Linked DNA regions of Homo sapiens: all the other regions are linked to region 4. The links come from fine-mapping of genetic effects on plasma protein levels. Region 4 holds a variant in brackets. A gene starts in each other region. All regions are shown on their forward strands. Distances are from middle to middle.

What was found. PIP is the chance, under the fine-mapping model, that this variant and not a neighbour inherited with it causes the effect. The UK Biobank Pharma Proteomics Project read protein levels with antibody pairs (Olink). The fine-mapping took linkage between variants from a reference panel, not from the people measured, so its PIPs are less certain.
Region 1: TLR3 starts here. The variant in region 4 is fine-mapped to the plasma level of the TLR3 protein (UK Biobank, PIP above 0.99).
Region 2: MFAP5 starts here. The variant in region 4 is fine-mapped to the plasma level of the MFAP5 protein (UK Biobank, PIP above 0.99).
Region 3: CTSV starts here. The variant in region 4 is fine-mapped to the plasma level of the CTSV protein (UK Biobank, PIP above 0.99).
Region 5: it holds the start of CD207, and the variant in region 4 is fine-mapped to the plasma level of the CD207 protein (UK Biobank, PIP above 0.99).

The regions. Positions count from the first base shown.
Region 1 is chr4:186,066,059-186,071,986 of GRCh38, forward strand. TLR3 (toll like receptor 3) reads left to right here and starts at 3,098. Exons shown (of 5, transcript NM_003265.3): 1 at 3,098-3,190.
Region 2 is chr12:8,659,992-8,665,919 of GRCh38, forward strand. MFAP5 (microfibril associated protein 5) reads right to left here and starts at 2,835. Exons shown (of 10, transcript NM_003480.4): 1 at 2,636-2,835; 2 at 2,056-2,115; 3 at 872-907. The coding sequence starts at 2,113.
Region 3 is chr9:97,036,838-97,042,765 of GRCh38, forward strand. It overlaps CTSV (cathepsin V), which reads right to left and starts at 2,305. Exons shown (of 8, transcript NM_001333.4): 1 at 2,234-2,305; 2 at 1,081-1,216; 3 at 656-778; 4 at 415-561. The coding sequence starts at 1,206. RefSeq lists a silencer at 2,340-2,649.
Region 4 is chr9:133,269,070-133,274,981 of GRCh38, forward strand. It overlaps the pseudogene ABO. Among named protein-coding and RNA genes, the nearest start is that of OBP2B, 63 kb to the left of the region's middle. RefSeq lists enhancers at 1-1,525, 1-472 and cis regulatory regions at 217-224, 223-247, 286-311. The variant A/G (reference allele first, on the strand shown) is at 5,345.
Region 5 is chr2:70,833,155-70,839,082 of GRCh38, forward strand. It overlaps CD207 (CD207 molecule), which reads right to left and starts at 2,662. Exons shown (of 6, transcript NM_015717.5): 1 at 2,550-2,662; 2 at 2,337-2,453; 3 at 492-866. The coding sequence starts at 2,622.

The sequences.
Region 1 (5,928 bases), not on the chromosome of region 4:
AGAGTGTAATTATTGTATTGTTCAGTACTAATCTGCCTTTTCACATACATGCATTGAGAGGAGAGTCTTCTGTTTGCCCCACAATTTCAATTCTCTATATTTGTGGTTAGAAACTGCGGTGACACAATCCTCATGTCTAAATTCATTCATTCGGGAGATTGTAAAGATGGTTCCGTAAAGCCTCAGTATTGTAGGTGCTGATAATGATGATAATGAAAATGATAAACTTTCCCTTATAAATCTTATAATGAATTGACTAGACTGCCTACAGACTATACACTATCTTTGTCTATAGGTAAAATGGTTGTAATTGGCCGGGCGCAGTGGCTCACGCCTGTAATCACAGCACTTTGGGAGGCCAAGGTGGGTGGATCACGAGGTAAGGAGATCGAGACCATCCTGGCTAACACGGTGAAACCTCGTCTCTACCAAAAATACAAAAAATTAGCCGGGCGTCGTGGCACGTGCCTGTAGTCCCAGCTAGCTACTCTGGAGGCTGAGGCAGGAGAATTACTTGAACCCGGTAGGCGGAGCTTGCAGTGAGCTGAGATCGCGCCACTGAATTACAGCCTGGGTGACAGAGCAAGACTCTGTCTCAGGAAAAAAAAGATTAAAAAAAATAAAAACGGCTGTTTTATTAAGAATTGTTATTAGGAACGGGCAGAGAAGAACAGTGTCTGTGTAGTTCAGCATGTGAGTGGTAATTTGCTAATTATATCTGGCTTGTCACTCCGGTCTCTGTAACTTGCTGTGTTTTGTCAAGTGATTCTTCCAGAAATTTTGTGTATATTATCTTACTAAACTCTCATTAAAGAGGCCCCTCAAATGGAAGAAGGGAACTTAGAGTTTTTAGAATGTGAATAAATTTAAGGGACTTTGGCTTCTAGAATTCTGTAGATCTCTGTTTTGCTGGGAATATACAGCTTCCCATTATTCTGAGATTGGCTGATCTGTAATGCTGTGAAATATCAGTGTTTACTAAATTTGTTATTTTACATTTATGGGCATACATTTTTTTTTAATTCTCTCTCTCTCTTTTTTTGAGACAGGGTCTCCCTCTGTTACCCAGGCTGGAGTGCAGTGGCGCACTCATGACTCAATGCAAACTTGAATTTGCCTGGACTCAAGTGATCCTCCCACCTCAGCCTCCCAAGTAGCTGAGACTATAGGCATGCACCAACATGCCCAGCTAATTTTTGTAATTTTTGTAGAGATGGAGTTTTACCACGTTGCCCAGGTTGGTCTTGAACTCCTAGGCTCAAGCAATCTCCTAAAGTGTTGGGATTACAGGCATGATCCACTGCTCCCAGCCTTAATTCTTTTAAAAAGGGGAAAAATGAGGTTTTTCACTATTGCTCCAATCACCATCATAGCTAAATAAGTTAATGCACATAGTTAAGAAATGTACAGTAGAGAGAAAACAATCTGTGTTGTATTTAGAAACTAGCAAGAATTAAGGACTAATAATATCTGAATATGAACTGGTATTAAGCCCAAACTACTGCATCAGGAGACCATCAATAAAATTTATTTATCGAGAGCCATTCATTAGTCAACCAAAGTCGTGGGAAATTTAATCTGTATAAGGAGTCATAAGGCATAAGGGATAGGTATGAAGGATTGTTGAGATGATGTGTTTTATTTCGCTAATAATGCATATGACACCATTCCAATTTTTTTAAATTTAAAACAACAATCATTTATTTGCTTGCTTCTCAAGCCTGGGTAATCGTGTTTGGCAATGAGACCTTGTTGCATGCTTGCTAATATCCCACTGGTCAAAGCTAGTCAAATGGCCAAGCCTAGAGTCAGCGTGGGAGAAGGCCACACAAGGGTTTGAATTCTGAGGACGAGTCTCTTTCATTGAAGGCCAAAGAAACAGTCTACCTCAGAGGGTTGCTGGGGAGCTATAATGCAAAGAATAAACCTCACCCTGCCTTCAAGGCGCTCACAGAGAAGAAATCTTTTGAATATTAGTGAAGTTTTCCTGGACATCCCAATGGATAGATGTGAGGGACAGTCACGTACTCAGGACATCTGTTTGCTTATGGTGTTATGTTACAGATGTCACAAATGAAAATCAGAGACATGTAGCCCTGAGCCCAGTAACTATAAAGCGGTCTAGCTGAAGCTGGAGCCCACAAGAGGGCACTTTGCACCATGATGCACGCTTGTTTCTTGCCATCAGCTCTGCAATGAGTTCAAGCTAATGCCATGTCCCAGCCGTCCAGTTGTTTTATGACTTGTGTGATTGAAGCATATGGTGGCTTGTGGCATGTTCTTAGGCAAACCACTCACCTCCCTAGGTTTCGTTTTCCTAATTTCTCAAACAAGGGAGTTAGATTAGGTGGTCTATAGTTCCTTCCAATTGTGATATTTCACTATATAACAATATAGTTATAATAGATCATAGCACATCTGTAATGAAAAAAAGTGAGTTCATTTCTTAACAAGTACATTTACTTAACTAGTTGGAGTCATTAAAGCAAATTAAGAACGAAATTCTTAGTTAATCTGAACTTTTCTGGGCATACTGATCTGTTCCCTAACGCGTCTGACCGTGGAAAAGTGGATCAGCAGGAGTGGGACTGGCTCTCAGCTTTGCCATGTTTGGCTCTTTCTCTGCTGTGAAACTCAGTTTCTTCCTGGATCAAGAGGTTAATTTCTGCCGGTGTTATTTTACAGTGTTGCAAAGAGATAAAAGCCAGACGAAAGAAGGGAAAGTACTTCAGCTTTGATTAGGGATTTTTTTTTCTGTCCCTGTGACCATACACTACTCAATTCTGACAGCTTCGCATGAGTCTAGCAGAAAATTGAGGGATTCACTGTTATTCCTTAACTTGCAGAGGTCCAGACCCGCCCACATCAAATGGTGAGGTCCCCACTTTCAACTTTAGCTGTTGCTAAATCTGTGACCCTTTCAATGAAATCCAAGGATCTCAGCTTAAAAAAAGTTAAAATAAAATAAAAACTAGGTGTTTTTCAGAGGCGGTTTGAAACGCCTCTCTGAGGTTGTCAGAGATTGTTTTTGTTTTCTCCCTTTGCCCTTCTTGGAATGCACCAAACATAAAAGCATTTTTTTTCAAGCTTTACTTTCACTTTCGAGAGTGCCGTCTATTTGCCACACACTTCCCTGATGAAATGTCTGGATTTGGACTAAAGAAAAAAGGAAAGGCTAGCAGTCATCCAAGTAAGTGAAGGTGTTCATTTCACGTTCTTACTGGGCAGGGTCTCTCTTGCTGAGTAGAGTTTGCTAGCAGAATGCATGTGGTTTTAGCCTTCTTTGGTCTTTCTTTGATCTGGTGCTTGAAATCTAGTCAGAATTATTCAGGAAGGAAAGTGGAAGAAAAGGGATATGATATGGGCATGGGAGAAGGGTATAACTCAGAACACAAGTAATAGCACCAATATCTAGTTAATGTGATAATGTATTTATGCAGTATTTAATTTTTTTCTCTGTAGCATTCTGTACCTGGAAAAAACACATTAGGGAAGCTATGGAAATCATTTTGCAACAGTCTTTTTAGCAAATCACATCTTTGCCTTAAAGAAACAAAACTCCAAGAGGTTAAAAGAGCGTATCCCCTTTTGTTAGTTTTATTGGCTGGAGGGGAGACAGGAGCTGGCATTGTATGACAATGTCTTAGATAGGAGAGAACATTCAGGTATGCCTAGGAGTAAGTAAATGGCTTTCTTTCACCTAATGAAGGATAATGGAAGAAGTGGAGAAGTGGAAAGTTGTTAAGGTGTATGGGAAGATCAGAAACTGGTATCGGCAATTGTGGGGTACTCGGGTAAAAATGGAGTTGGCTTCAGCAAGTTGATTCCCAGGTTTACAGATGATTACGTGCTGGTATGTGTCTTCATATGGGCGTGCCTGTGTATGAACCTACTACAAAGGTTGCAAAGTTTACAAATCAAACTATGGATAGTGGTTAACTCCAGGTAGTCTGCCTCCAGACCCCATGTCCTAACCATCAGGCAATATTGTCTCTCACTTGGACAAAGAATGTGAATTCCATGTGCCCTCACAAAATATTTCCAAAATTCTAAGGCTGAGTGAGTCTCTTTTTAATTTTTTTTCATTTTCTTTATTTCTGCTAGATCTCATTCAACAGCAACGTTTTCTTCACTCTCATTTCATCCTTTAACTGCATTTTTGCTTGTTTTACTGAAGCATGTCCTAGAATAACCTTTTCATACAGATCGTATGGCTATAAACTTACTGAATTTTTGCATATCTCAAAATACTTATACCTTTTTATTTAGTTATTCAGATGGATGTGAAATTTCCCTATCTTATTTTATTTTATTTTATTTCATTTTATTTCATTTATCGATTTAGAGACAAGGTCTCGCTGTGTTGCCCAGGCTGAAGTACAGTGGCATGATCGTGGCTCACTGCAGCCTTGACCTCCCTGGCTCAAGCAATTCTCACACCTCAGTGTCACGAGTAGCTGGGACCACAGGTGTGAACCACTATGGCCAGCTAATTTAAAAAAAAATTTTGGTGGAGATGAGGTTTCCCTGTGTTGCCCAGGCTGGTCCCAAACTCCTAGGCTCAAGGGATCCTCCAGCCTCAGCTTCCTAAAGTGATGGGATTACAGGCATGAGCCACAGGTAATTTTCTTGGCCTGGTCAAAGGTAATTTTCTTGTTTTTTAGAGGTAAGGTCTTGCTCTGTTGCCCAGGCTGGAGTGCAGTGGTGTGATCATGATTCATTGCAGCCTTAACCTCCTGGGCTCAAGCGATCCTCCTGCCTCAGCCTCCCAAGTAGCTGGAACTACAGGCTTGTGCCACCACACTTGGCTACTTTCTAAAATATTTTTGTAGATACGGGGTCTCACTATGTTGCCCAGGCTGGTGTTGAGCTCCTGATCTCCTTCTGCCTACACCTTCTAAAGTGCCGGGATTGTGGGGATGAGCCACTATGCTTTGCCTGGATATGAAATTTTAAATTCAAAATAATTTTCTCTAAATGTTTGGAAAGCTTATCTCTATTGTTTTCCAGTGGTTCATGTTACTGATGAAAAGTTTTTTATTAATCAAGATCTCTTTTCTTTGGAAATGAAGGTTTTAGGATTTTTGTGTGCATGGTTGCAATTCTGAAATTTCATAGGAGTCTCTCCAAGTTTGTTCCTCTTTCACTCCTCCTGCCTAGCATTTGGTGAGTTTTGCCCACTGATGAAATGTCTTCAGATGGGGCAAGTCCTTAAGTCATTCAGGGATATGCTTTGTAATGGATTAGTCCTTCTCAGCAATTCTGACCTATAGCAGGAGCCCTACCAGAGGGGTACATCTCACCTAAGCAAGGAGAATGTATTGTAGGGACCTTACCTATGAGTTGGTAAATAGAGATAGGAAGTTCTGAAGGAACTGGAAGAGAGGTTTGGGACACTCTCAGAGAGGGGGCAGGTGGGGAGCTGGTCCCCAGCATTTGAGAGGTATCATTGCCAGCCCTGCATCCTTCACGTGCCTGGGCAAGTCAGCAAATGCATCCTTGCTGGCCTAGCTGTGGCATTCCTCATGGCCTGTGGATATAAAGAATGTGCACAGCTTTACAATGATTAGTGCCAGAGTTGTAAAGGCCATGAGATGGGAATATTAGTTTATGGAAGCCAGTTTTTTTTGTTGTTTTTTCTGTTTCTGAGAACTAAATTAGAATATTAGTAAAATCGCTATTTTTAAGTATATTAGAACAATTCTATATACTCACATTAGTTCTGTTTTCCTAGGATTAGTCACCTAAGGTGATTTTATTACCTGACACTTACCTGGAATAATTTTCATGTCATGACTTTTAGATCTTGTGGAATATCTATTTAGATATCATTACCACTGCTTCATCTCCATACCTTGTGGGTGTATTTGATTTTTTAAAATATCTGAAATTTGGTTGTTGATCACACCACAGAGTATCACACTGGGT
Region 2 (5,928 bases), not on the chromosome of region 4:
TGCCTTGAGGCAGAATGGAGTTTTCTTCATGAAGTCGAAGGAAGTGGTCCTCTAGGGGTCACAACTTTTGGGATTTTTGTTATAGAGAATGGTGTGAGCAAAAATTACCTAAAAAGCTGAAAAACCAAAAAATACCTTTTGGGTTTTGCTCAGTTGTGCCACAATTTCACCTAGGATTGACATGACTTCTTTTTTTCTAATTTTTTTTTTTTTTTTTTAGTCAGTTCCACTCTGTTGCCCAGGCTGGAGTGCAATGGCATGATCATGGCTCACTGCAACCGCAGCCTCCTGGGTTCAAGCCATTCTCATGCCTCAGCCTCCTGAGTAGCTAGGACCACAGGCATGCGCCACCATGCCAGGCTAATTTTTTTTTTTTCTAGAGATGAGGTCTCCCTGTGCTGCCCAGTTTGGTCTCAAACTCCTGGGCTCAAGCGATCCTCCTGCCTCAGCCTCCCAAAGTGCTGGGATTATGGGTATAAGATGACTTCTTATCCTGTCTTTCATTTTTCCACTGTTACATGAATTAAGGAACGCTTTTTGTAAGGACTAGTAAGCATTTTCTGAGTAAGATAGGAGATGTGTAAAGAAAAATGAAAACAGAAATGGTCATAGAGGATGTCTTGGGAAGGTGTTTCAGTAGTTTAAAAACACACACACAAGAAGCTTTTATGAATGGGATAATAGGATTGTGGAAACTGGTGAAGTTGATCCTATTTCTCACACTTTGGCAATGCATCTCTTTGTTGTAGGAAATATTCTTTTTTTTTTTTTTTTGGCAGCGATAGATAAGCAGGAAGGATTTTTTAACTCTGTTCATCTAAATTTTCCTGATAAGAACCCCAACAGAGCCGCTATCCAAGGGTTCACCTACCTCCTCGTTGACTATTGACCCCCAGGGGTATCCAGTCTATAGCAAAGGAAGAGAAAAGAGATGTGAGTGACTGCAGCTCTATACCTCGTAACCCTTTTATGAGACAAATCAGAAAATCATGGAGAAATGGTTATACTTTATCTTTGTGACTTATTCCTATATAGCTCAATATAAAATTACTGAGACCATTAGTGCTATGAACAAAACCAATAGGAATAGAAAGACTTCAGAAAGACAAGTTCCTTCACTGCTGTGCATTTGTTTGGTAAAAAGAAAAAAAAGACAAGTTCCTGAGAACAAAGCCCTGCTGCCCTCTTACCCTCATTCCTGGCCAGGAATGAAGTCCAGCTCCACTGAGAGGCCTGGCAGCCCTTCTAGCCCCACGGCTTCCCCGCTAGCTATGCTAGTGAACAAGACAGAAGAATTATTTTTCTCAATCTGTATCGGAAGAAGGAGGGAAAAAAATAGAGTAGGACATCTTTACAGCCTAAAGTTCACTTTCTGTGGCCAGTCTTCTAGCCAGATTCTGGGAAATCTGTGAAGATCACTTTTCTCTTGTGTGTCAGTATGGCATATATTTTTTGCATGCATGTGAGTATACCTGCATGCATGATGGTAATAGTGTATGTATTCCCACTGTTCTTCTTCAAGATTTACATTTGGTCCAGTTTCTTTTTTTCTTTTTTCCTTTTTTTTTTTAATGGAGATGAGGTTAACTCATCTCACTATGTTGCCCAGGTTGGTCTCAGTGATCCTCTCCACTCAGTCTCCCAAAGTGCTAGGAGTATAGGTGTGAGCCCACCATGCCCAGCCCAGGTCCAGTTTCTTTCTAGGTAGTCCCTCCTCTATGTTTGTGTATGCATTTGTATATCAGCTTCTTTTTTGCTTTGCAATTTGTTTACTCATATGTGACCCTCTTTGGGTGGTTAATATGCATTTGTGTGTATCTTAGTTGCACCTTAGTTTCATAATTCTTGGGAGGCCTTTCCCCTAGTCTGAAGTCTAGTCACATTCCTGAACTTTTTTTCTTAACACAAAATCTGTTCTTCTAATAGGAATTCCAGAGCTCAATACCAAGCATCTCTACTGCTATTCCTCTTCGACCTCATTCCATCCCATCTCCTGCCACACACGTGTATAGCTGAGGAGCTGAGGGTTTAGGGAGCAAAGAATAAAGGACTCACCAGAGGTGATGATGAATGCAGCAAGAAACAGCAGCACCTTGGGTCCCAAGAGCGACATATCTATAGGGGTGGTGGGCATAGCAGAGAATGTGATGCTCAGAGGCACATCAGCATTTCAGTGCCAGGGAAAGATGCCTCTGAGGTCCCTGTCTCTTTGTCTTCCCAGAACTTTCTTCATTTTCCCTTATGACTCAAACCCTTTCTCTCTTTTCTTACCTTTCACCCAACATTCATTTCTCCCTCAAATCTATTCCTTGGTCACTTACCATTATTCTTGCTTTTATTATTCTCTGCTACCAAGTCAGAGGAAATTTTACATTCTACATGGTCCGTACTTGGCCCTACCCTTTGGCCTCTTTCACCCCTGATGTGGAATCTTCCTTTCTCATATGCGTGACTTTTTCATATCATCTGCTCATCTTGGCGTCTCCTTCATCAGAATTCCACGGTTATTTGGGAGGTCTGCTCAAGACTAAGTTCAGTGACATTCCCCATTGCCCCCTCCAGCCCTTTCACACACACACAGACATACACACATTCCCTCTGTCTCTTTAGGGTTTCAGGTAATCAAATAACTCACTGTCTATGGTGTTCTGCTCTTTCCACCGAGTCCTTTGGCTGCTGAATGTGTCTCTCTCCTCTTACGCTGTTCCTACTTTGGCTGGCGAATAAGATGAACAGAGCCACTCCCTGGAAAGGACTTCAGATTTGGCCTCCGCTGAAACAATGAGATGAGGGAGAGCAAGAAAGCCAGGCTAGGCGTAGAATGTGTGTTACAATGAGGCTGGAATGAGAAGGGAGATGGGAATTTGCAGTTGCTCACACCCTCATTCCAAATGTTATGACTACACTGGTGAGAGCTCTTGCTGCTCCCTGGAAGTGTTGGCCCCAGCTCATGTATTGCCTTTCTTCCATTAGCCTATTTTCCCTCCTCTCACGATCTGGTCCCAGCTCCCCTTTGTTCCTTGGGTTCTTTCTTACCGAAAAGTTCCGTCTCCTCCTTGGTGTGTTTTAATGCACATTATAGATGCTGTTTCTCTCTCTCTGGCTATCTTCTTCTTCTTTGTTTTTTGTTTTTTTTTTTTAAGACAGAGTTTTGCTCCTGTCACCCAGGCTGGAGTGCAATGATGTGATCTTGGCTCACTGCAACCTCCGCCTCCTGAGTTCAAGCAATTATCCTGCCTCAGCCTCCTTATATTCCATATTTGAATCATTCCTTCATCCTTCTTTCTCACTTTCTTTTTCAATATTCGTCTCTTCAGCACTAACAAATTTCTTTTTATTCCTGTATTTCTTTTTCATCTCTGCCTCTTTCTTGACCTACACATTTAGACTCTTCTTGTTTTTTTTCCCCTTGGAATATCCTATGTATTCTCACAACCAAGCGAACACAGATACCTTATGAGTTTTGTCCAAGAGGAAGGCTGGCTACCTTAGGGTTATAAAAAGTTGAGGAACTTTTCAGAACTCTCCAAATCATTTTCAAATGTAGAGAAGCTCTGTGAAAGGGGTGCCAGCCTTACTTTGTCTTTTGGCTTTGTTTGAGCTTAACTAAGAATCTGGGTTTCTGGGCTCTTAAGGATAAAATGCAATCAGATGCCCAAAGAAAATTGAAAGGCAAGGTTATTATGCTTGCCTCATTTTCTACCAATATTTTTCCTTAGATCATATAATGTGTAGATAACACTTTCTCTGATCCAGGATTTTTTCTTTTTTTTAAGATAGGGTCTTGCTCTGTCACCCAGGCTGGAGTACAGTGGCATGATCACAGTTCACTGCAGGCTTGACCTGGGCTCAAGTGATCCTCCTGCCTCAGCCTCCTAAGTCGCTGGGACTACAGGTGCATGCCACTATGCCAGGCGAATTTAGATGTATTTTTTTGTAGAGACAGGATTTTGCTATGTTGCTCAGCCTTGATTCAGGAATTTTAAAGGCTTTGTATTTCTTCTTATTCACAGAGACTCTAGTGGTTCAACCACTAAAACATTCCCGCTTTGGATTCAAGAGCAAACTTGAATTACAGAAACTCAAGTCTGAGGAATGGTGGACCTTGTATGCCATAGAAATATGTAAGTTTCAGGTTTCCTGTTGGCTCCCCTTTAGTCTACATTATATATCTCCCTGATGAAATAAATTAGAGAAGAGTACAGGTAGACAGAGAGCAGATAGTATTAATAAATTACATACTAGAAGAAAATAAAAGGGGGTATGATGGAAGGAAGGAAAGAAGGAAAGAAGGAAGGAAGGAGTCTAGTTGAGAGGAAAAAAGAGCAGTGGACACAGAAATAAGCAAATCGCACTTTGTAAGCACCTCTGGGACCTCCGAGGGAGCTGTAAGTGCTACATCTCTAAGATACATGGAATCTGGTCAGTCCGCAGAACAAGCTGAGTGCTACGCCCAGCTCTTCCTGATCTTCCTGCCCCAGAACTTGCTCTTCTTCCATCTGCTCCCCAGTGAAGGGGCTGAGACTAGAAAACAGATGTGATTCTAGTCTGAGGAGAGTCAGGGGAAGAAAAGGGTGTTGGGAGAAGAAACAAAAAAGCAGATGCAAAGCAGGACATAGCTAAGGCAGGACATAGAATAGAGAGCCTAGAGCAACAATCAAGTTTTCCATGAAGCTCAGACAGATGGAGACACTGAACTCAGGCCAGTCATTTGGCAGGGAGAGCAATGACCTCAATGTGCTGGCCTGGCTAGAGGCTATAGTTTAGGAGAGCCTCCCCAGGCAGTGGGAGGGGGCGTTCTCCTGGGGTTGTAGGAGGTAGTCTGGAGTTGGGGCAGTGAAAATAGGAACAGAATGTTCAGAGCAGGGCTGAAGAAGAGAACAGGCAGGGAGTAGCATCCTAGAAGGAAAGGAGAGGTAGTGAGACAGGAACTGGCAGAAGAGCAGGACAACCATATATTGTTGGGTTTTAAAGACTTTTGAGAATGCAGTTTGTTTCAAGGTTGGTTAGTTTCTTTTTTTTTTTTTTTTTTTTTTTGTGAGATAGAGTCTCGCTCTGTTGCCCAAGCTGGAGTGTAGTGGCGTGAACTTGGCTCACTGAAACCTTCGTCTTCTGGGTTCAAGTGATTTTCCTGCCCTAGTAACTGGGATTACAGGCATCCGCCACCAGGCCCGGCTAATTTTTGTATTTTTAGTAGAGAGGGGGTTTCGCCATGTTGGCCTGGCTGGTCTCGAACTCCTAACCTCAAGTGATTTGCTCCCCTCAGCCTCCCAAAGTACTGGGATTACAGGTGTGAGACACCACACCTGGCCAAGGTTGGTTAATTTTTTCATGGCAACTATGGCGGGCCCTTTATTCTACTACAGTTCCCCATTTGTTCTCAGAGCCCAGGTTTGGATCCCCAGGCTTAGAGATCCTCAGATTTGCTTTTCTCAGGGTGATTTTGTCAGCCTCTGTTGCATTGTACATTAATTAATCATTTAATGACATCAAGTCAAAATCAGCACCAATGGTCAGAAACGAGCAAATGCCATCCAGAGTTACAAGTCCATAATTTTCTGGGGTTCTTTTTGACTCACTGAGTAGCAATCCATACTTCCATCCCATATAGGCTGGATCTCCTGAGGGTAGACAACACATTCTCCAGCAATAAGAAAGCCCCTCATGGGACTGACTGGCGCGTGTAGAAGTGACTTAATGAAGGCAATCTATGTTTGAGTTACCCAGGAAAATTTTCGTTTTTATAAAATGTCTGTGAAAGATGGGCAAAGGGCAAAGAAAGAGGAGAGAGACAGAGATGCGAGATGTCAAGCTGGTTTTATTCATCTGTTTATTGGCTTGTAAAGAATACACCCATTAGCTGAAGGCCTCTGGGCAAATGTACAGAAACGTTATTACTACAGTCCCATCCAACTAAATTAAACCCAG
Region 3 (5,928 bases), 36 Mb before region 4:
AAAAAAAAACCCATCGCCACACTTTGGGAGGCCGAGGCGGGCAGATCACTTGAGGAGAGGAGTTTGAAATCCGCCTGGCCAACATGGTGAAACCCTGTCGCTACTAAAAATACACAAAAATTAGCTGGGCATGGTGGTGAGCACTTGCAATCCCAGCTACTCGGGAGGTGGAGGCAGGAGAATCTCTTGAACCCAGGAGGCAGAGGTTGCAGTGAGACGAGATCACGCCATTGCAATCCAGCCTGGGCAACAAGAGCTAAACTCCGTCTCAAACAAGCAAACAAAAAAAACACCAAAAACCAAAAATACAAAAAACCCATCACCATATGTTGTGCCACCATCTACCACAGCAATGACACCAATTCCTTCTTGGCTTTCCTGTGGAGACAGGGTCTGAATCTGACGCTGTCTCACCTGATTCTTCACTGGCGTCACGTAGCCTTTCTTTCTCCAATCCACAGATTTGGGAAGATCAAGAAACAGAGGCTCACGGAACACTTTCCCCTTCCTGAATTTCTGGTTTCGAAAGCAACCCATCATCTGCCTGAATTCTTCATTGGTCTTCAAGGAGAAGTAAATAAAATGTTAAAAGCAAGACTATTTTGGTGAAGAACTGAGAAGCAGCACAGAGTTCAGCAATCCTTGCCACACTCACCATGTCACCAAAAGCATTCATGGCCATTGTGAAGCCATGTTTCCCTTGGCTGTATTCCCCATTGTGCAGTTCAATCATTTTCATATTCTTTTCCCACACTGCTCTCCTCCATCCTTCTTCATTCTAGAGGCAAACATATAGCTGGTGGACTTTATGTCTACTTACCCAACCCATGTTCACCAAGCCGATTTGCGGGCAGAAATGGAAGAGAAACCATGGCCAGGGATGGGTTGATACTTCTCTGGGAGCTGTTCTCCAAGCCAAGACACAATGGAGATATATGCCCATATTGCACCTATAATGGGTGCTGTTAGGTTATTGCCTGGTAAGGTCTGGTGTCTAGAAGCTACTCTCTGGCTATCAACTCCCAACAGCGAGGACCATTCTCTCCAGAGTCCCTCTGGACAGTTTCAGATGTTACCAACCGCGCCATATAATCTTCTGTGTGTTGCCTTCCACTGGTACCACTTTGTATCCAAATTTTGGTCAAATTTTGGAACAGCGGAGGCTATTCCCAAGCAAAAGGCAGCCAGGACGAGCGAAAGATTCATGTTTCAAAACCTAGAAAGAGAAAAGAAATGAGTATCTGATTAGACCAATCCTAAAAAGCCATCTTACAGCCCCCGTGGAATAGAAATATTTCAATTATTCTCCCTAGCATTTCCCCAAGGACTGTGGAAGAGGCTGAAACAGGCCAAGTGGAGGTATTTGATGGGCCCACCAAAATTAAAAGCAGCCTGCAGAGTTGGAGGCGTTGAAACAGCATATGCGATAATTTAGGGTATGAGAAGGGTGTGAAAGATACCTGACGGGTGAGAAGCTTAAGGCAACAACTAGAAAACTAGGAAAGAGTTGGTCCAGGTTTTGCACCAATTGTACTGAGGTCATCCAGGCAAAACCTCACTAATGAAGACGTACCATCCCAAGTAGATGCAAGCGGATCCCCAAGGAACACCACCTCACACCTTCTTGGCTGATACACAGCAGGAGATGAGCTATGTCTTCCAACCTCTCCTTTTGGAATAAAACCTTTCGGGAATCCCTTTCCAGGAGACACTGGGAAGGAGAGCACCCACTATTCCCGCCGTCCCACACTTGGGTCTGTGCTACTCGCTCCCCTAAACCGGGGCAGGGTCACAAGGCCGCGCCGCTGGAAGCCAGGGGCCCCAGGGCCAGGGCCCGGACCGAGGCAGGCAGCTCCCGGAGCTCCGGGCGGGCCAGGACCGGGGCCGCACCGCCTGCTCTCGCCCTCTGCACGCGCCGCCGCGCCCCGAGAATGTTTGCGGCGGTGCAGGGAGCGGGGGCTCCGCGGCCAGGCTGGGGGCATGAAGCCGCCCGGTCCGGTCCGGCTTCAGCCCACAGGATGACTGACCTGCCCCGCCCGGGCCCTCCCAGTGGTGCCGGCGCCTCCCTGGGGTCTCCAACCGCCCTCCCCCGTTCCCCACCTCGAGGCTGGCAGAGCTCCGGGCAGAAGCTCTCACTCCCAGAAGCGCCCGCCTCCTCTCAGTGTCCCTAAAGGGGGGTTCCCTCCTCCAGTCCCCCTTCGCCCTGTCCCTCGGTCTGGTCGGGGGCGCTCACCAGCAGCCGTCGCAGCTGCGCAGGCACCCTCAGCAAACAAGCCTCTGAGATTACAGACGTCCGCGGTCTGGTGCAGGTTCGCCCGCCTCGGGATTTAAGTTTCCAGGCGGCCTTCCCCGCCCCCACCGCCTTCCCGCGCTGCGATTGGCTGTGCCGGCCACTGGGCGGGGCCCCGGGCGCTTAGAGCCCGCGCGTGACGCAGCCCAGTCCCAACCCGTCTCAGGTCTGGGCGCGCCTACCTCAATACACCCTGGCTGCGGGAAGCTGGGCCGGGCGCCCGGGGGCTGCGCGGAGGAGGGGGAGGCGCCTCCCTCAAGGGCTCAGATCTACTGACTATCCCGACTTACTGCGCTGAGCGGGTGGTTTACAGCGAGCTCTGTGTGGTATTTCAGTCCCTACTTTAACTTAGTCCTAGAGTTTTTGGTGAAAATCTGCAGGGCCGGGAGCCAGGGTACTCTCGTTCAGTGGCTCCTGTTTAGTCCACGGCAAAGGTGGGACGGAGTGGAAGAACGCACAGCCCCCAGCAGAAGCATTACCTTCCACTTAAGGGTGGGTGCATCAGGGCTTTAGAAGAATCTGGTAAGGAAAGGCACTCCCAAAACACGGGATGGATGGTCGAGACCGGACACCAGGAGGGACGGGACTAGCTGATAGGGTGTCCAGAGACCGCGGAGCGTTTTGTGGTGCGTCCTTCCCAGTCTGTTGCATTCAGGAATTCTTCCTTCTCCCATGTCTTTCAATACCAAAAAAAAAAAAAAAAAAAAAAAAAAGAGTTACAGAAATATTTGGTTAATAAAAAAGAGAAAAGCGTTGAGAATGGTGAAATAAATTGCTTTAAAAATTTTTCTTTTGTAGAAATGGAGTTTGGCTAAGTTTCCTTAGGCTGCTCTTGAATTCCTGGCCTCAAGCGATCCTCCCCTCTCAGCCTCCCAAAAGTGGTGGGATTACAGGCGTGAGCCACTACGCCCAGTCTGAGAGTGGTGGAAATTGCTTTTACTTACCTACTCTCTGCTTATGGGTTACAACGTCTCTTCCTCAGTATTCAAAGTGTGCTTCTTTTGAGATTTAATAAATTTACTTTAAAAATGTTTAATACCGGCCGGGCGCGGTGGCTTACACCTGTAATCCCAGCACTTTGGGAGGCCGAGGCGGGCGGATCACGAGGTCATGATATCGAGACCATCCTGGCCAACATGGTGAAACCCTGTCTCTACTAAAAATGCAAAAATTAGCTGGGCGTGGTGGCGGGCGCCTGTAGTCCCAGCTACTCAGGAGGCTGAGGCAGGAGAATTGCTTGAACCCGAGAGGCGGAGGTTGCAGTGAGCTGAGATCGTGCCACTGCACTCCAGACTGGTGACAGAGCGAAACTCTGTCTCAAAAAATAAAAATAAAAATAAAAATATATAATATCAGGGTTGAGGTGATGCAGTTTGAGGAACTGCTCTTTATGGAGAAATATATGTAGCTAAAGATTTAAGGAAATCATTAATAATTCAGAAACGTTTCTAATTCTTTTTAAAGTTATATAAAAAAATCCATTATAAAAAATATGTTTTAGAAAATAAACGTCCCTTGTGCCCTCTCCATAACCCTTTTCTAGGCATATCTTTTTTTGTTTTTACAAAAATGAAGTTATAATGCATATTGATTAATAAACTCTTAAAGATTAAATTGAATAATATCCACAGTTTTTACTTGTTAATTTGAAAATTTGTGAAATCAAGTTTAGCCTAAAGCTGCCTCCCCATGTGATTTAAGTTTGGCCTAAAGGTTTCTCTGTACATAGCGAATTGTAATCTAAATGGAGGTGTAAACAGACTGTAGCCTGCTCTTGTGCCTATCCCCGAATTTCTGTAAATCAAAGAGGTTCAGTTGTTCAAACCATGTTCAAATAAGGCAAACATGGAGCTGTATCCAATCCTGCAGTTTCTGTGCCTCACTTGCCCTTTTCTGTCTATAAATCTTCCCCCATGTGGCTGCACTGGAGTCTCTCTGAGCCTACTCTGGCACTGGAGGCTGCCAGATTCACGAATTGTTTTTTGCTCAATTAAATTCTCTTAAATTTAATTTGGCTATGGATTTTCTTTTAACAAATTAAAAACAATTAAACTGACAACTTTTCAGAAGCACCATCAGGCAAATACATCTTTTTAAAAATCAATTTATTAATAATTATATGTCCTTCCTTTAAATAAATAGCAGCTTTTCCCTCTCAAATACAACTAGGGGCCAAAGCTGTCAGGTGGTTATATAAAAAATACAAAAGTATATTGTATTGCAGGCCAAGGTAGGTGGATCTCCTGAGCCTGGGAGTTTGAGACCAGCCTGGGCAACATGGCGAAATCACACCTCTACCAAAAATACAAAACAAACAAACAAAAATTAGCCAGGCATGGTGATGCATGCCTGTAGTCCCAACTACTTGGGAGACTGAGGTTGTAGTGAGCGGAGCAGAGCATGCGCCACTGCACTCCAACCTGGGTGACAGAGCGAGATGCCGTCCCAAAAAAAAAAAAAAAAAAAAAAAAGCATCTTGTACTTGTACTGCAAATTTGCCGTCTCAAAAAAAAAAAAAAAGCATCTTGTACTGCAAATAGCTGTTTTTTTTCTTTTTTAAAAATTAATCATTGTGTTGAACACAATCATCATTCACATGTGGAAATAAATGAAGACCACCACCTAAGAACAAACAGAGGCCATATATTCAGAACTTGCTATAACAAAGGAGATAATTCAAAGACGAGGGAGAAGAAAAGCTTTAGGGGAAAAAGGGGGCAACTTCAGCTATGTCCTCTTTGCAGAGTGTCGTCATGGAGAAGCTGAAGGAGGGATAACTAGAGATGGAGCGTCTTATGTGATTTGTTTGTGGAGTATATTTGGTTTTTCTGGTTTGTCCTGGGTTGGAAGCAGAGGCAAAAATGAGGAAGCTGTCAGCCACTGAGTAAGTCCTGACTGTTCTGAGTTGGTCTCTGCAGATATTATGCTTCATTTCTTCTGTGGGTCAGAGTTCTATTGCCATATACTATGGCCATTGTCTATTTGTTTACTCAGTCTATCACAAGAAAGCTAAGTTATTCTAACACGTGGGTTTTACAGTTGCCCTTGGGCCACAGCTCCCTAAGATTGTAGGGTGGAGAAACCTGCCAGGCCATTAAGATCTGTGCCTTAAGCAATAGCCTGACAGCAGATGAGTGGCAGGTGCTGCCCTGAAGAATGGCATCCCCTTTGTTTTTTGGAATGTGAGACAAAAGTAGTGGAGAAAACATAGACCCTTTTCAAACCAAGTGTGCCCCAAATCTAAAATTATACCAGAAATATGTAAATGCAGAAGAAATATGGGAGAAAGCCAATAAGCAAGAGGGTGGAAGACGTTATTGCTCCAACTTAGGACACCTATTTATATCTATTTATACACATCTGTAAAAAAATGCATTACAGAAATGTGGTATTACTAGCCAGGACAGTTGTATTTAAATATTTGTTTCTTTCCCTACTCTTCTATTCCTATTTCTTTGCAAAATAATTTTGATGAGTGATAATTTTTAGAACAGTCACATGTTAGTGAAGCAACCAAGCCTTGGTTATGCCTTTAATAAAATGGAGTTGGCAGAACTTCCTGATTCCTATTTAAAACGCAGTGCCTGTGAAAGTATATTCTCACGTGCATCTGTGTAGCTTTCTTTTACTCACTATTA
Region 4 (5,912 bases):
AAGAGAAACATTCTGCCATGATATAAAGTGAATACATCACGAAAATATAACAAACAGAAATATATACATACCTGACAACCTAGCCCCAAAATACTAGAACAGGAATTAAAAGAAATTAAAAACTGTGTAAGCAAAAACTCAGTTGTATGTAAAAAACCAATTCCCCTTGAGGAAGAGAAAGGGCTGGAGTCCTTTAAAAATTAACTGGCTGTTTTTCTGTGGCTAGTGAGCCTTATCTCTCCCTTTCCCAGGCATTGCGAAGACTCTGTTTCTCTAGCTGTGCAGCTGCAAGGTCACTAAACAGATAATCTTGAGTCATAAAACGTGTTGTTCCTTGAAAAGTAAGAAATAATGTAATGCATGTCTTAACTGAATAACTGTCTTTGTTTCTTGCTTCTGTAATACTCTTCCCCCTGCACAAATCTCCCCCCACCCCACAAAATGCTTAAAAGGTAGCTTGACTCTTTGTTTGGGGCCCAGTCCTTTGGATGTTAATCTGATTGGGTCGGTGCACCTAAATAATTAAATAATTCCTCCTCAACCCCATCGGTCTCTCTGATTCCTTAATTATCCCGCAGCAATACATGAAGCAAAAACTCACAGAATTGAAGGGTGAAACAGTCAATTCACCAGTAATGGTTGGGCCAGGCATGGTGACTCACGCTTGTAATCCCAGCACTTTGGGAGGCCGAGGTGGGTGGGTCACTTGAGCCCAGGAGTTCGTGACCAGCCTAAGTAACATGGCAAAACCCTGTCTATAAAAAATGCAAAAATCAGCTAGGCATGATGGTACTTGCCTGTAGTTGCAGCTACTCAGGAGGCTGAGGTGACCTAAGCCTTGGGAGGTGGGGGCTGCAGTGAGCTGTGATCATACCACTGCACTCCAGCCTGGGTGACAAAGTGAGACTCCACCTCAAAAAAAAAAAAAAACAAACAAAAAAAAAAAAACAAAAAAACAATAATTGGACACCAAAATCCTACCCCACTCTCAGTAATGGATAGAATAATTAGAAAGAAAATCAGTAGATACAAATGACTTGACATCACTGGACACCAACTGACATCTCTAGAACACTCCACCTGGCAAGAGCCGAAGTCACGTTCTCCTCAAGTGCACATGGAACAGTGTCCAAGGTCAATCATATGCTGGACCATAAAACAATTCTGAGAAATTCGAAAGGACTGATATCCACAGAGTTTCTTCTCTAGCCACAGGGGAATGAAATCAGAAATTAACAAAAGAAATTTGGGAAACCTATAAATACATAGAAATTAAACAACATAATTCTAAATAAGCAATGGGTCAAAGAAGAAAATCAAAAGATACACTGAGCTGAATGAAAATGTAAACACAACATACCAAAATTTATGAGATATAACTAAAGCTGTGTTTCAAGGGAAATTTATAGCTGTAAATGTCTACATTAGAAAAAAAAATCTTAAATCAAGTGTGTAAGCTTCCATTGTAAGTAACTACAATAAGAAAAGACAGAACGAATTAAACCCAAAGTGAGAAGAGTGGAAACCAATGAACTAGAGAACAGAAAGAAAAAGATAAAGTAAAAAAATATCAAATGGCAGTTCTCTGAAAAGATCAAGAGAATTGACAAAGCTTTAGCTACATTGACCAGAGAGAGAGAGAACACAAATAACTAAAATCAGGACTAAAAGAGGAGACAGCAATTCCAATCTTACAGAGATTAAAAGGATTTCAAGGAAATACTATGTACAACTGTTTGCCAACAAATTATGCAACTTAGGTAAAATGGACAGATTCTTACACATAAACTAGAAAGCGGTTAGAAGAAAATATAAGATTAAATCTTTGTGACACTGGATTAAGATTTCTTAGATATGATACCAGATACACAATAAAAGAAAAAGTTAATAAATTGGAATGGATCAAAATGTAAAACTTTTCTACTTCAAAATACCAATAAAAAAGTGTTAAACTATTGATGGTTGAAAATATTTGCAAATCATATATCTGGTGTGTATATATATATATATATATATATATATATATATATATATATGATACTGTGTATGTAAAGAACTCTCAAAACTGAACAAAGGAGACAACTCAATTTTTAAAAAGGCAAAACATTTCAATAGGCATTTCACCAAAAACATATACAAATGGCTAAAAAGCACAAGAAAAGCCACTTGCCATCATTTGACCTTGGGGAAATGCAAATCAAAACTATAATGAGATACCACCTTTTACCCACAAGAATGGTATGTATTGCTGCAGACGTACAGACAGTGGAACCCTCAGCCAGGCGCAGCGGCTCACACCTATAATCCCAGGACTTGGGGAGGCCGAGGTGGGCAGATCACTTGAGCCCAGGAGTTTGAGAACAGCCTGGGCAACATGGCAAAACCCCATCTCTACCAAAAATACAAAAATTAGCTGGATGTGGTGGTACTCACCTGTAGTCCCAGCTACTCAGGAGGCTGAGGTGGGAGGACCAATTGAGCCCAAGAGATTGAGGCTGCAGTGAGCCAAGATCATGCCACTGCACTCCAGCCTGGGTGACAGAGCAAAACCTTGTCTCAAGAAAAGAAAAAGGAAAAGAAAATTAGAACCGTTATACACTGCTGATGGGAATGTAAAATGGGGCAGTCACTTTGGAAAACAGTTTGCTAGTTTCTTAAAATGTTAAATCAGACTTTCTGTATGACCCAGCAATTCCTCTGCTGGGTATCAACCCAAGAGAAATGAAAACATGTTCACACAAAGTCTTGTACACAAATGTTCATAGCAGTGCTGCGTGCAGTTTAAAATAGCTAAAAAAGCAGAAACAGCCGAAATGTCCTTCAGCTGATGAATGGATAAACAAAATGTGGTCTATCTGTACAATGGATTATTCAGTAATAAAAAGGAATTAAATACTGATACATACTACAACATACATGAATCTCGGAATCATTATTCTAAGTGAAGGAAGTCAGATGCAAAAGACCATGTAACACAGGACTCCATTCATAGGAACTGTCCAGAAAAGGCAAGACTGGAGAGACAGAAAGTGATTGTCTGAGGCCAGGTGGGAATGGGGAATGACTGCGGAGGAGTTCCAGGGAGTTTTGGTGGGCTGGGGATGGAAAAGTTATAAAATTTATTTCACAACTCTGTAAACTAACTGAAAATAATTCATTTGAAACAGGTGAATTTTATGGCATATCAATGACACGGCAATAAAGCTGTTTCTTTCAATGGTGCCATCAACCCCAGCCCCTTGACCCTAAGCTGAAGGAAGAGAGATGCTAGGTGTGTTCAGTAGGGCTCCGTCAAAGCTGATTTTTTGAAGTTATGGGCAGCATTCCGAGTAAGATGTGTTGTGGCAGGTCAGGTCTCACTAACGCAGGCCTCCCTAACAACTGTTTCAGTACTGACTGAGTGGTTAAATTAAATATTAAAAGCCAGTGCCCTTATAAAAAGGCTGGAATATAACAAAATCCCACCAAGAGTTTTGCCTAGACCTTTCCTGGGCCTTCAAGCATGACAAAATAACGAAGGAATTCTTAACAGGACCCATTTAGGATTAAACAAGTTTTATTGGGGATCTGAAGAAATTCCCCAGGACTCCACAAATAAGTTTACTGGGGGTCTGAAGGAACTTCCCAAACCCCCATGATTTAGGAGACAAGATAAGGGTTTTAGATTAAGTAAATTTACTGAGGATCCAGAGGAAGGTCTTCAGGACTCAGACCTTAGTTATAGATTAACATAAGTCAATTACTTATGTCTTGAGATGAATGCACACTTACACATAGACATATAGCTTAGAAGGTATATAAGCTCTGGAAAACTTTGTAATTTTGAGTTGGTCTGGAGATAATTTCCAGGTCTTCTCCTTGTAACTGGTTACAGAAATAAAAACTCTCTTTCTCCCCAGTTCATCTGCATCTCGTTATTGGGCCGCGAGAGATAGCAGCCCCACCCTCAGTTTGGTCCAGGAACAGTTTGATCTCTTCTTGGCCAATCTCTGGTGAGACCCACCAGAATGGAGGAGAGCCGGGACTGGGTGCACTGCCAGCTTCCAAAACTCCTGCACGTGGTCTCAGTCCTCCAGGGATTATGATGGGTGTGAAGGAGCTGAGCATTCTCTAAGGAGCCAGCACATGACACCCAGCTCACCGCCCACCAACCACATCCTCACCGTCATCTCCAAGGCTCTCTCATGTCCTCTTCCTGCCTTTCGGGGGATCACTCCCTCTGACTCCACTACCCTGCTCTCCTGCCCGCCCCAACAAGCCTGACTGATTTGTGGAGCCGGGCCTTCCCCATGTGAGCTCTTCTCCCTGGCATGCTTGTCCCCCAGATTTCCACACACTGGGTCCCTCGCCATTGGTGTCCCTAAGGACACCAGCTCACCAGCTCCTGGCTGCAGGCACCTTCTAGCACAGGCCTGCTTGTTCTCATCAGTGTTCAACCAACATTGGTTGGATGACTAAATCAACATGCAGAATGTGGGTAACCTGAGAATGGGCACTCATTTGCCAGGTTTCTCAAAGACCTAACCTCTTAGTCTTCAAGACGTTTGTCTTGGGTGCGGTCATGGGCCAGAGCCAGTGCCAGAACCCCAGGAGTATAGAGACCAACTGCCCGACCCTGGTCCTCCAAGGCTCCCTGACATGAGACCAACTAAGACAGCATAACCCGTGGGGCAGGACAGACTCCTGGGGTGGCAGCTGTGTTCATCATCTTGACTGGGTCAAGATGTATCCAGCTGTACCTTTCATGTGCGGTTTATTGTATACATCCGTTGAAACATATTAAGACAAAAAAGGGAAAACAAAGACCACAAAGGAGGGACAGGGAAGAACCCGGAAGGCGCTGGCAGCACAGGGAGGAGGCAGGTGTTTGCAGTCAGACCTGAGTCCCAGGCCCCACTCAGCCCTTCCTGCCTAGGACCAGAGCACTGTCCCAGATCTCTCCAAACCTGTTTTCCCGTGGGTGAAAGAATGACCCGGGAAGTATTTACCGTTCCTTCCTGAGAACTCAGCGATACTGAACACAGTGCTGCCTCACAGTAAACACTGACAAATGGTGAGCATTACTGAGGGCAGGGCCTCGACCTACACCATACCCGGTTTTCTTCATGAATTTTCCACTCCTCTGCCTCCCGCTCCTCCAGGGCTGCACCTCCGGGGCAGGAGCCCTCACCAAGTCAGGCCTCAGTATGCCTTATCCGCCACCTGATTCCAAATCAAAGTAAAACATCTCTCCCCAGATGTGTACACAGCACTCCTCTAAATTAAAGGGCTGTGTGCTGGCTCTGGGTACCCCACCCGGCTCTCCCTGGCCTTTGGCGTTGGGGTTCACTGGCCTGCAGCCTGC[A/G]CCCCGTGGCCCTGCGTTCTGCATCCCTCCCTCTGAAGCGACGTTGTTGTCTGGGTAAATACTCAATTCATCTTCTGGCGCCAAGAAAATTAAGGACAGGTGATCCACCCTCGGCCTCCCAAAGTGCTGGGGTTACAGGCCTGAGTCACCGCATCTGGTTGCCTCAATAATTTCTTCTTAACTCCTATATCACCTGAGGGCCCGGGGCACAGTTCCCCCGTCACGCTTGGCATTGAACTTGCCCACCTCGCCTTCCCGAGGCGCCTCCGCGTTTGGGGTATGGAGGCTGTTCCCGGTCAACCCGGGCGCCTGGCCGCCGTGCCCGAGGGAAGGGCTGGGGGGCGGGCAGGGCAGCCCAGAGCCTTGTCCTAGTCCAGGGTCGGGCGGTAGGTGCTGAAAATAGCAGCTCATGGAAGGCGGGGAGCGTGGAGGGGCGAGGAGAGGCTGGAGACCGCCACGGCGTCGAGGGACCCCGCTCTCACCAGGACCCGGGGACCCCGGAGACGAGCCCCCCGCCAGGCCGCGCCACCGCGCCCATCCTCCCTGCGGGTCCCAGGCACCCACAGCG
Region 5 (5,928 bases), not on the chromosome of region 4:
GCTGTGCGCTGGTGTCCTTGGGTCCTTGTATAGGAGATTAGGGACACTCTTTCAAATCCTGAAAGTCAGACAGAGACTAATAGAGTCTCTGGGACTGGAGAGGTTATAATGCAAGAGGTTGGACAAAGAGTGTCTTCCCCATGATGAGGAAGCAACCCTCCATCGGCCATGACAAGTGGCTGAGCCCCTGGACTCTAGAAAGGAACTTGATGGGAAATGACTAGGTGTGGGCCAGGGTGGACATCCCCTAATGCTTTTACATTCTGCACTTTTGTGTGGGAGCTCTAGCTGGACCCTGGTCTCTTTTCTCCTAACAGCCCCTAAGTCCTCCCCAACCTCAAGCCCTCTCTCCTTAACTTCCTAGCCCATGGCTGCCCCTCTTTTGCCCCCACTCTCCTCCCCAACCCACCAGCCCAATGGCCTCAGGTCTGGGACAGGTAAGATCCCATGGGCCACTGGTCAGCTTCAATGTAATTTTCTGAGTCACTTACTTTGTCGTTTGAGCAACTTGCTCATATTCTCCAAGCTGCCCTGGAGTGCCCGGATCTTTGTATTTAAAGCACTGGCTTTCTCCAAATCACTTTTTAACTCTGGGATTTGGGCATTTAAGGTACTGACTTCTTCCCAACTTCTTGTTAAGATCTGGATCTGTGCGTTGGCCTTCTCCACACTGGTTTTTAACTTCAGGAACTGAGAACGCACATAACCCAGGCTCTCATTCACCATCTGGATCTGAACGCCAGCTGCCTCCATGCCGTCACTATTCTTTTTAATTTCAGAATCCAGGGTGCTGATGTTGTCCACACGACCTTTCAGCAACTGGACATTGGTCTTTACATCTGATATGGTGCCCATAAACCGGGGATCTGGGATTGAGAAAGTCAGGAGGTCAGCTGAGGGGAGTCCCAGGGACAGGAGTGGGGGTGTTGTCAGGTTGATCAAAGGAAGGGAAGGAATAGGCTGAAGCTTCCCAAAGAACCAAGACAGTCCAATGGGCCACCCCAACCCTCCAATCATTCATTAACGTACAACAAACGTGCAATGGGCACCTACCATGTGCCAGGAACACAGGTGGATACAGATAATGGGGAGATTGATAAAACACAGGCTCTCTGTGAAAAGATTTCACAGGCAAGCAGAAGCAGGAGTTAGAAACCATTCCTGAATTTTCTGAGTGTTCAGGGAACATTTGATAAAGGGTGCCCTCCATGAGCCCCACCACTGTCCCCAGAACTTGATTCCCCCTAGACCCCACCCCTTGGTTGCCATCCCTCTGTTTTCAGAAACCCCTGCAGTGGCCATCTGCTAGGACAGCACCACTCCCCCACATCTGTCCATGGGCCCCTCTGTGACCATGGGAAGAACCAGCCACTAATCTGGAAGTGGCTTCTCCAGAGAACATGGAAGAGGAGATTACAAAACTGTTTCTCCCCTTCCCTTGCCCCACCCACTTTCACATTCTGCTCAGGTCCCAGGCCTGGGTACCAGAGAGAGGATCAAAGATAAACCAAGAGGCTCAAAGGCGAGCCCTGAGGAAAATGCGATGTTAGAGGCCAGGGGTCTAGGATGGGGCAAGGGGGACTCTGCTCAGAGCCTACAAGTCTAAGCCCAAATATGTCCCGAGGCCACAGAGGGAGAAAAAAAAACCCAACAGCTTCTTGGGTCCCTTTGCTCTGCTTCCTGGAGCCCTGGCAGGAGGAAGAAGGCTCTGCCAGCAGCAAAGGCCATGAAGCCTGACAGAGCCAGAAAAGGAAGAAAGATAAACCATGCAACATCAAATGAGCAGGAAGCCTCCCTAGATGTGATCTTCACAGGGACAGGAGAATGAAGACAGCACCAACGAGTCCTGGGGAGAGGGGACTGAGTCATGGAGATCTGTTGGCTCGTTGGCCAGGCTCTCCATCTGGTGAGCTGGGGCCAATGATACATGAGGCTCGGTCCTTCACAGGGTCAGGAGACATTGCACTGTCAAGGACTGTCCACAAGGCTCTAGATCCAAGGAGCAGAGCTCAGATTGGTGGGGGGTGGACGGGGAGAAAATAGCACAGGATGTAAAACTAGATCAATGTTTCCTGAGGACAAAAGAATGTATCCTTGAGCACCAATGTGCAAATGCTAATCCCAATAATCTCCCAGAAATTGGGAGGGAAAGAGCATCAGCTCACCGTACTGGGGGCAGCACAGCCTGTTACTGCACATGGAAAGAGGAGGAAGGAGACAAATGAAAAAGCCACAGGCAGGAGAAACCCGGAGAGCAGGGAAGTGGTCTCGATCTGAAGGGAGCCGGCTGGCCACAGAGAGGGGCTAAGCCCAGACGATGAAACATGAGGACTTACAAAGGACGGCCTGCAGCAGGACGGAGGCGACCAGGACCAGCGTCAGGCAGATTAATGCAGCACGGACTGTGGGTGTTTTCCCCGGGACCAGAGATGGACCGGACTTGGGAGGAGGCTCTGTTGGAAGAAGAAGAAAATGTGTGTTGAAGGAGCAGCAAAGGGCAGGTTTGCACACAGAACACGGAGCAGGTTCTCAGCAGCGATGTGGCTTGCCTCGGGGCCAGAGGGAGATGTTCTGTTTGTCCACAGTGAAGTGCGCATCAGGGGCCTCCTTCTCCACAGTCATCCTGAGTGCTCACCCTTATCCTGGGAGCACAGGTGCTTCTGGCTGCCTGTCTCTCCAAGGGCTCTTATCTAGAGGAAACAGGAAGTCAGTCCCACAGCAGGTCACCATATCATCCCAACTTCCCTATTCCTGACTAGATACCTTGTCTGGCTTACTCCCATCCTCAGAAGTCTGAGCTTTCAGGAAGAGGCCATTTGTTGTCTTCTCTGGGGGTCTGTTACATGGATACATTAACCATCTTGTCCCAAACCTATCCCATTTCTCTTGTAAGACTCTCGTCATCCATCCACCCATCCATTCACCCCACAAATACAGGCTGAGTGCCTTCTAGGTACTGATGCTCTACCAGGCATAGGGCCACAGTGATGAATAACTCGCAGTCCTTGCACCAAGCAGCTCATAGTCTGGTAGGAAAGACAGACATGAGCAAATAAATTGCAAGGTGATGAGCACAAGAGACAAATATGCCCAGTTCAAAGAAGCATATGAAATGGAGTAATGGGAAAAAAAAAAATCCAGTAGAAAGATAAGCATATGCCAAAGGATGGAGCATAAGATAGCATGGAGTGCTTGGCAAATTGTAAATAGTTGCAATATTGCTGGAATGTAAAATATACATTCCAACAGGAAGGGGATGCACACGGGGTTGAAGAGGCACCTGGGGTCTGATGATGAAGATCCTTCTGATCATGTCAAGGAGCTGGACCTCTGGCTTGTGGGTGACATGGGGCCAATTAAGGACTTCAGGCAGGAGAGAGACAAGGACAGGGACACTGTAGAAACATCACTCTGATCCTGGTGAGGAGCAGACTGGTGGGGAGAAGCCTGGAAGCAGAGATACCAAATAGGCAACCATTGCAATAGAATATCCTGCTTCCTGTTATTAATGCATCTTGGCTGATACAATATCCCTTTATAATATGCAACTTGGAGATTCAAAGTGTAAACCTAAGACTTGGGTTCTCCTCCCTGCTTCCTGCACCATGTGAGATTTTCAAAAAAAGTAGGGGCGCTCAGCAACCTCAGACTAGGAATCGTTCTGTTTCTCTCTCCTCTCTCTCTGTCCGCACCTCCTCTCTCCTTCTTTGTAGTCCTAAATAGAGAGTTCCATATGTGCAAGAAGCTCAGGGCACAGAAGAGCTGATTTGGGCTCAATGAAGGACTAAATTTTCTCCTGGGCGGCTTCTCATGCTTTGAAGAAGTCTGCCAAATCTGAGAAATTTGGCACATGGCAGACTCTAGACAAATATTTCTTGGAATATAGGAAAGAGGAGAGGAAAGAGGGAGGGAAGGAAAGAAAAAAGAAGGAAATTGGTCCAGATAATTGGAGGATGGGTGAATGGATGAATGGATGGATAGAGGATGCATGGATGGATGTGTGAATGGTAAGTGACTTGGAGACTTGATAGCTGATCATGCCACTCAGACATTTACACAGTCTGGGGCCTGGGATCTGCCTTCTAGAAGCTGCTGCTTTTTTCCACTGTCTCCAGAAGTTCTCATTCATCTTCAATGCAAAAGCATAAGGGGAAGTGTGATTTACTCCTTACCCAGGAATGAACAAAAGCTCTGGCCGCAGGAAAAGAAAGCTGTCCTGGGCCTGCTGAGGCTGAGCCAGTGGAGCTGGATGACAGCCTGTATCAGGGACCAGGATTAGAGGTTAAGTTAACAGGGCCAAGGAAATATCTACCTATGCTTTCAGGGGCTACTGCCACCTTTGGTACTTGGGAGGATAGTGGCTGCACGCTCAGCCCATGCCTATGTGCAGCTCATTGTAGTTACAGGCCCTTGATGCTCTCTCTCCAGCTAACCGGGCCTCAGGCTGGAGTGGCTTCTCGGACTGGATGAGGGAACCCAGAGAGGACCCCACACTGGGAAGCTCTGGGAAGGAAACTGGGTAGCAAAGATGGTGTCTCATTTGTTCTGTCCCATCGCTTCCCTACCCAGCCTGTCTGTAACTTCCAGGCCTGCTGTCTGCTCTAAATTTTAACATTTGATAGTCCCGAATATGAGGGCCTGGCTCCACATCACTGCCTGCCTCTGGGTGTCCATGAAGATTCCTACTCTCTTCAGGTGGCTCGTGTGGTTGCAGAGCCTTGGTTCCATCAGGGCTTAGACAGGATTAGAATGTTCCACTTCTGGACTCTCATGCTTGGGACCCAGCCTAACTCCAGAATCATCTCTGCCCTTCTGCTCCTGGCTCCTGGCCCTTCATCCATAGCCTGTCCTATTTCTGGGCCTGGGGATAGAGAAGAATCCAAATTACTCAAGACCCTGGTAGAAGGGGCCTTGCAGGGGTCCATGTCTCCTCCTGAGGCATTTGCGGGAAAGAAGCCGCCACACAGTGTGCCTGGGAAGTGTCTTGTCCATTTCCGCTCGGTCAGGAAGTTGGGTTTTCTCTGCTGGTTTGTGGTATGAGTTATACTTTATAGAGCCCCCCAGATGCCCTCTCATTGGTCCCAGGAAAGGATGAGGAAGCCTTAGCGGCTGGGCCCATGGCATAGGAAGGGGCTGGAGCAGGGAGCATTTACTCCAAGTGATGGAAATGCAGGCTGAGGTAGGTAGAATAGCTACCGCTAGGCGAAAGGCTGTTCCAGCATGAGGAAGCTGAGCAAAGGCATGGAATCCTGGGCTGTGGGCCTTCTGGGGTTTCAGAGGAGGTGGATGTAAAAGTCCCAAACCATAGGAAGTTTCATTTCCCACTTTGTGGAGAGGGAGGGAGTCAGAAGCCATCTTCCTATTATCATGCTCATCTACAGGTCTTTCCTGAGCACCTCTCCTGTGCAAACCTCTGGATGCTCTATCTGGCACCTGGCCTGGCAGGAGAAAAGACAGAGAAGCAGGCAGGTGCCTTGGCCACACTTTCCAGTCAGGAAGGTGGGCAGTTCTCCCGGGCACTCAGACAATGCCCTGCTCTTCCAAACAGAAGAGGAACTCTGGCCAGACCTAGTGACCAAAAAAATCACCGCTGTGATGAGAACGGGAAGTCTGTGCTCATTTTTTTAGTTTCTCCTCTTCCTGTGTTCCTGGGGTTCTAATATTTTCTCTGGATAAGGATGGAGGAAGAAAACAGCTTGGTCACTTTTTCCCTTTCTCTGGTTGAGACTATGGTTGGGCCCAGCCTTATGCTTGGAGGAGAACCATGGGTTTAATCAACAAGACTGGAACAGAGACCTGGGTTGTATGAAATGCTCCAGCAGTGCCAAGAGTCATCTCCAGGGAGGAGTCACCCAAGTCCCTCAGTCAAGTCATGGAGGAAAGTAGAGTGAACACCAAATTGCGGAGTGGGGACAGGGAAGGAGAAGA